Linked DNA regions of Homo sapiens. The protein of the gene in region 2 purifies or fractionates together with the protein of the main gene of each other region. This does not show direct contact. Each region holds a gene or a part of one and is shown on either strand. Other genes may lie near its edges.

The links. Proteins that work in one complex are often made in the same cells at the same time.
Region 1: the proteins of DEFB129 (region 2) and NSG1 purify together in Homo sapiens (affinity purification with mass spectrometry; one large-scale study listed by BioGRID and IntAct). This does not show direct contact.

What each region holds. Positions count from the first base shown.
Region 1 is NC_000004.12:4,411,102-4,414,601, forward strand, and holds part of NSG1 (neuronal vesicle trafficking-associated protein 1), read left to right. Parts: intron 1-3,500.
Region 2 is NC_000020.11:225,915-230,057, forward strand, and holds DEFB129 (beta-defensin 129 precursor), read left to right. Parts: upstream 1-1,343; 5' UTR 1,344-1,374; coding exon 1,375-1,432; intron 1,433-3,363; coding exon 3,364-3,857; 3' UTR 3,858-3,972; downstream 3,973-4,143. UniProt on the Homo sapiens protein: Has antibacterial activity.

The DNA of each region.
Region 1 (3,500 bases), on a different chromosome or scaffold from region 2:
CACCTCGGCCTCCCAAAGTGCTGAGATTACAGGCGTGAGCCACCACACTCAGCCAATAAACTTTTAAAATGTAAGTTTTTGACTCTTTTGTAATAACACTTAGCTTAAAGCTCAAACATCTTGCACAACTGTATATTATTTTTCTACATGTGCTTTTTCTATTAAAAAATTTTTTAATTCTTTTTTTACTTCCAACACATTTTTGTTAAAGCTAAGGACACAGACACACACATTAGCTAGGCCTGCACAGGGTCAGGATCCACAGTATCACCGCCTTCTGCCTCCACACCCTGTCCCACTGGAAGGTCTTCAGGAGCAGTGACAGGCACAGGGCTGTCATCTCTTAGGATAACAATGCCAGGCCAGGTGCAGTGGCTCACGCCTGTAATCCCAGCACTTTGGGAGGCCTAGGTGGGTGGATCACCTGAGGTCAGGAGTTCAAGACCAGTCTGGCCAACATGGTGAAACACCGTCTCTACTAAAAATACAAAAATTAGCCAGGCATGGTGGCGGGTGCCTGTAATCCCAGCTACTCAGGAGGCTGAGGCAGGAGAATCGCTTGAACCCAGAAGGCGGAGGTTGCAGTGAGCTGAGATCATGCCACTGCACTCCAGCCTGGGCAACAGAGGGAGACTCCGTCTAAAAACAAAACAAAACAAAACAAAACAAAACAAAACAAAACAAAACAAAACATTGCCTTCTTCCAGAATCTCTCTTGGAGGAGCTCCCTGAAGCTCTTTTAGAGTTAACTTTTTTTTTTTAATAACTAGGCATGCACTCTAAAATACTGATTAAAAAGTATAGTACGGTAACATAAACAAGTAACATACGCGTTTATTGTCACTGTCAAGTATTATGTTCTGTATGTAATTGTATGTGCAAGACGTTTATACAGCTGACAGTGCAGGGGGTGTGTGTATACCAGCACCTCCGCAAAGTGAGGAGTGTGTTGTGTTCCGTCTACACGGTGGCTGCGAGGTCACCAGGCGACAGGAGGTTTCAGCTCCGTGACAGTCTTATGGGGCCACCATGGCATGTGGTCCATCGTTGACCCAAATGCTGTTATGCCGCGTGTGGCTGTAAAACGCACTTGCTGGTTCCCCACAGGGAGGAGGGGGTGGCTAAAACTGCCTTCCCTATCCTGCAAGCCCAAGTCCCGCTGGATACCTGGCCTGGGTGGGAGATGACCCAGGAGATGAAGCCCCAGTCCTGTGTCCGGCTGCAGATGAGACTGGCGGCCACAATGGAAGGGGCCTGGCACCTTTTGTTTAAAAGGCGCTCCAGGTGATTCCCATCCACAGCCAGCCTTGGGAATTGAGAGTCCCCTGATAAGTTGTTCTGGAGTGATGTCCTGTGGGACTTTGGCATTTTCCACTAGCATCTAATGAGGGGGTGTCCTTTCCGGAGAAGGCACCTAGGAAGGCCAGGGAGCTGCTGGTCTGTATCCAGCTGCCCTTGGCCAAAGCTGGAGAAAGGAGAGGCGTGAGCTCATGAAGTCCCCTTGACCTCCTCCCTCCATATTTGTGCGTGTGTTTGTCACACACCAACGCTAGGCAGCTTGTGTGGGGCTTTTACACCTGTTGCTCACGGAATCCATACACTCGGTAGCTGTGGGCTCCCGTTATCCATACACTCAGTAGCTGGCTCTGAACTTCCCAGAGTCAGTGTGAGATGCTCATCTCCAGGGCTTGGCACTGCTGAGATTAAAATAAAGCAGGAGAAGCCAACTGTTTCTAGCACTGAGCACGTGCACAGGGAAGCCTGGCTTGGCAGCTGTCACTGGGTAGCTTGGGTTTGGGTTTCATTTAGGTTTTGTTTTTTGCTGATATGAGGACGCAGAGAGTCCTTACGCGATTAGCAGGAAAGGCTGGAATTCACGTTGTCCAGCCCAAGTCCCTTTTTCTCCTTGCACATCATGCTGTCCTTCAGGCTCCCGACATTCAGCTCTTCCTCCCTTGGGCAGGCATGTACATGGCACCCACCCCGTGCCAGCAGCTCTTGCTATTGTTCTAGGCGCTGGAACACAGCCGAGAGCCAGTCAGGTACAGCCCCCTGCCTTCACGAGGCTCTTACATTCTCAAATGAACGGTGAGGAAGTCAGTCGTACACTGAATGTGAAGGCTATAGACAGACAGGAAAGAGGGCCCAGGGGTTGGGCATGGGCATGTGGGCGGTAGTTTCTAGAAGGATGGTCCACATTGGAGGAGCGGGTCTCCAGGAGGTGAGCCAGGGAGCTTGCGGGTCTTGGGGGAGTGTGCCCAGCCAAGGAAAGCCCCCACCCTTTCACTCATGTTTTATTCAGCAAGCCCCGTCCACGCCCTAGGCTGGGGCTGGGAGAGTTTGAGTCTGTTTTGGAGGCTGAGAGGACACCAGGGCTTTACAACAAGCAGAAGCGGAGGGTGCGGGCTTCAGGGAACGAGGGCAGTGCTGGCCCTGACCCAGTGGGAAGGGGTTTGTGATGGTAGAGGAGCACAGAGGGAGCAGCGGGCAGTGGGGACGTGCTGGTGGGGGTGTGCTGGTGGGGGGCTAGCCACAGGCACAGGGAGGCGGCAGAGGATGAACCAGCTTACGGCCAGAGCGGGTGCATCCTGAGTGCCAGGCACAGGCCCCTGGAGGAGGGGGAAGTGATAGGGTGACCTCTTGGGTCACCTGGGGAGGCTGGAGATTGGAAGGGAGAGACGGGGCAGTGAGATGACCAAGGAGACTGCTGCAGTGGCTGAGGGAAGAGAAGACTGGGGCGCTGGGGATGGAGGGGAGACTGCAGACTGGAGAACTGATTTAATCTGGGAGGCAGAGGGGTAAAAGGAAAGGGCCTGGTGCAGAGCTAGTTACTGAGGGAGGCCGATGTCATGGAGAGGGAGCACGGGCAGGCCCAGGAGCTGGCCCTGAGCCGGAGAGAGGACAGCAGAGGACAGCTTCCTGGGGGCCGGAAGTCCCCACCGAAACTGGCTACTTACAAATAACTGAGGCCAGTGGCTTCACCAGCTGCCCTGGAGCTTCCTTCCTGGCTCATCCTCTCTGAGCCTGGAGCAGGTTCCCCACAGGGAGGAGGGGGTGGCTAAAACTGCCTTCCCTATCCTGCAAGCCCAAGTCCCGCTGGATACCTGGCCTGGGTGGGAGATGACCCAGGAGATGAAGCCCCAGTCCTGTGTCCGGCTGCAGATGAGACTGGCGGCCACAATGGAAGGGGCCTGGCACCTTTTGTTTAAAAGGCGCTCCAGGTGATTCCCATCCACAGCCAGCCTTGGGAATTGAGAGTCCCCTGATAAGTTGTTCTGGAGTGATGTCCTGTGGGACTTTGGCATTTTCCACTAGCATCTAATGAGGGGGTGTCCTTTCCGGAGAAGGCACCTAGGAAGGCCAGGGAGCTGCTGGTCTGTATCCAGCTGCCCTTGGCCGAAGCTGGAGAAAGGAGAGGCATGAGCTCATGAAGTCCCCTTGACCTCTTCCCTCCATATTTGTGCGTGTGTTTGTCACACACCAACGCTAGGCAGCTTGTG
Region 2 (4,143 bases):
AAATGGTTCTATTATAAAGACACATGCATGCATATGTTCACTGCAGCGCTATTCACAATAACAAAGACATAGAATCAACCCAAATGCCCATCATTTGGCCATTTGGATAAAGAATGGATAAAGAAAATGTGGTACATATATACCACGGAATACTATGCAGCCATAAAAAAGAATGAGATCGTGTCCTTTGCAGGGACATGGATGGAGCTGGAGGCCATTATCCTTAGCAAATGAAGGCAGAAACAGAAAACCAAATACTGCATGTTCTCACTTATAGGTGGGAGCAAAATGATGAGAACACATGGACACACAGAGGGGAACAACACACACTGGAGCTTACTGGAGAGTGGAAGGTGGGAGGAGGGAGAGGATGAGGAAAAATAACTAATGGACACTAGGCTTAATAGCTGGGTGATGAAATAATCTATACAACCAACCCCCATGACACACATTACCTATGTAACAAACCAGCACATCCTGCACATATACCCGCGAAGTTAAAAAAGTTTTTTTTTAGTTGCTACTTTAAAAGGATGTGGGAATCATTGTAAACTCAAAAGTTAAAGATGTGCCAAGAGCTGTCTCCCACGAACTTGTTTAACAAACGTACTGACTTTGTATGTTGATCCAATACCCATGCTGGCCACTGGACATACCAGTACAAACAAGGCAGAATCTTCACTCTCCTCTAGCTCTTCTAATTCTCATGCACTAAGTGCCAACCTTAGCATAACTGGGCTGACAATCAGTGAATCAAATATCTAACTCTTATCCTACTCCAACGTTAAGAAAGAGACATGCGACTGGGTGCGGTGGCTCATGCCTGGAACCCCAGCACTTTGGGAGGCCAAGGTGGGCGGATCACTTGAGGTCAGGAGTTTGAGACCAGCCTGGCCAACATGGTGAAACCCCGTCTCTACTGAAAATACAAAAGTTAGCTGGGCATGGTGGTGCATGCCTGTAGTCCCAGATACTCTACTTGGGAGGCTGAGGCAGGAGGATTGCCTGAACCTGGGAGGCGGAGGTTGCAGTGAGTCGAGATCACGCCACTGCACTCCAGCCTGGGCAACAGAGTGAGACTCCATCTCAAAAAAGCAAAAGAGAGACACATGCAAAGGGCTTGCTCTTTCTTTCTCATCTTACCTATCTTATGTTTTCCTCCAGGATCAAGAGCAAGGAATTTGTTGCATAGAGGTGTTCAAGAAAGGGTGTTTTCAAACAGAGTCAGAAAAAACACAACTATACTGCGAGCAGCATACAAACCTGCTTTGGCTGCACTTCACTGCTCATGGCATAAGGCCACGAAGAGGCCAATAAAGGCTGGAGCTCAGGAGCATCAACCCAGATTCAAGGCTTCCTCTCTGGCACCCAACCATGAAGCTCCTTTTTCCTATCTTTGCCAGCCTCATGCTACAGTACCAGGTGAACACAGGTAATGTGGATTCCCAAGTTTAAGATGGGTAGATGAGAGGAACCAAGGATTTGGCTGCCCATGACAATGGAAACCCAAAGAGAGGAGACTGAAAGATTAGCTGTTCAAAAAGATGGCTAAAGAGCTTACCTATTGTATCAGTCATGCACTGATACATTCTCATAGGCCCCAACTGCCAGATTGTGTCCAGTGGAAACACCCAGGAAGCTACAGAGAAAGCAGGGTATTTTTTGTCTATTCAGAAACTATCCAAAATATAATGCTGCCTTCCTGCCCTGTATATGTCTATCATGCTAAGACTAAGCCCAGGTCTACCTCCTTTTAGCTCTATTTCTATCTTAAAAGCCCTTTTTTTTTAAAAAAAGTCCTGGGGTACTTGTGCAGGATGTGCGGTTTGTTACATAGGTAAATGTGTGTCATGGTTATTTGCTGCACCTACCAACCCATCGCCCAGGTATTAAGCCCAGGATGCATTAGCTATTTTTCCTGATGCTCTCCCTCCACCCAACAGGCCCCAGTGTGTGTTGTTCCCCTTCCTGTGAAACCACCTCTTGAAGCAAAGTTTCCTATCAGTTTGTGCTTGGTGTAGAAAGGAGGAAGTTCTTCCCTCATGCTCAAAAAAAAACCCTTTCAAGATCAAGTAAACAGGCCTGTGTTCTCCATCTTGAATTCTTTCAGGTTTTCCAGAGCCTTTATCGCTTCTCTCAGACTTTGTCTTCCTGAAAACCCCCAAACTACCATAAGGGCATCTAGGAATGCATTATAGCAAAAGGCTAAGCCAGGGGATTAACCATTGTTTTTGGAAAAGAAAGGAGAAGCACTGAGATTTGTTTCAGAATACAAGAATCATCCAGCTATTTGAAAAAATTAGCAAAGGGTTTCGGGGCAGGGAAAGTGGAAGTGTCAAAGATGCTTCTAATGTTTTTATCTTCTAATGTTTTTATCTTGGGACCCTAGGAAAAGGGTAGTACCATAAGCAAGTATGGCTGTGTCATCTTGGGTAAAGTCACTTAACCACTTTGAACTTCAATTTCACATGAGTATAATGGGGTTAATCAATGCAGCTGATTCCAATATAAGAATTTTTCTGTTTCCCGTTTGATGAGAAAACAATGTGGAAATGTATGCAAATATGCTTTGAAAATTAGCAGATGCTACATAAATCTCTTGTAATTTAGGGAAAATCATTGGGTTATTAAGATGAACAAGGGAGAAAAGCTTTCTTGATTCAGAAAAAAGAAACACGAGACATTAGGATGGAAAAGTCATTCAGCAGATAAAGATAAGGTACTAAGCCGAGCAGGAAATTTAGAATTATAGATAACAATACAGAAGTTACCTTGGTGGATATGAGGTTAAGGCTAGGATAATGAATGAGACTTCTGAGAGATAGAGTGTCCAAAGAGGCTAGAAGAGATAGAACACCATGCTTCAGGAATCACAGATCTAGTGATTGTTGAGAAGAGAGAAGTCATGGGCTACTGAGTTTGGTGAAAAGATAAGACTCCTGAAAATTCTATTGATTCTCTTTTGAACTTCTTTCTTAAATTAGTTTTATGATGGACTTGGCTCTCATTGGTATTTCCCAAGATTATGGAGATGGGATAGTGATGTCTGACAAGTACCTAAGATGCTAAGTTGAAGGTCTAAAATTCCATCCTAAAAGCAAATAATTACTCTATCATCTACGTGCCCTTTGCTTCTTAAAGTTACTCAAGGAAGGCAGACTAAACAGGAAATTTACTTTGGATTCAAGAGGGGCATAGAGACGCTCTCAGCCTGCCCATTTGCCTTCATCAACATTCCTAAACACTGGGCTTAAAATGTAGTATGAGTAAACTCTCTCTTAGTCTATCCATCTCCCACTAGCAGTTTTAACATCATCTCTAGTTATTAACCTTGGCTCAATGGCTTTCTCTTTTTTTATACAGAATTTATTGGCTTGAGACGCTGTTTAATGGGTTTGGGGAGATGCAGGGATCACTGCAATGTGGATGAAAAAGAGATACAGAAATGCAAGATGAAAAAATGTTGTGTTGGACCAAAAGTGGTTAAATTGATTAAAAACTACCTGCAATATGGAACACCAAATGTACTTAATGAAGACGTCCAAGAAATGCTAAAACCTGCCAAGAATTCTAGTGCTGTGATACAAAGAAAACATATTTTATCTGTTCTCCCCCAAATCAAAAGCACTAGCTTTTTTGCTAATACCAACTTTGTCATCATTCCAAATGCCACCCCTATGAACTCTGCCACCATCAGCACTATGACCCCAGGACAGATCACATACACTGCTACTTCTACCAAGAGTAACACCAAAGAAAGCAGAGATTCTGCCACTGCCTCGCCACCACCAGCACCACCTCCACCAAACATACTGCCAACACCATCACTGGAGCTAGAGGAAGCAGAAGAGCAGTAATGTGGATCTTTCCCTTAAAACTCCAAGTTCCTCTCTATTTTTGCTATCTATAAAATGACATAGAACTGTTTCCTCTGTCATCAGTCATTCAATAAACACTGTTTGAGCACCTACAGTTTATGTAATATTATCATTCTCACAAGAGCCTCACAGAGGGGGTAGAGCTAGGGAGGGATGGAATTGTTTAAGTTTAGATGCCCAGGAGAAAGTAAGCCTCAGGAGGGTGACTACAGCATCGAGTTTGTCCCAAGCATGGCCTAGATTAGGCCTCTGTAGCAAGCATTTA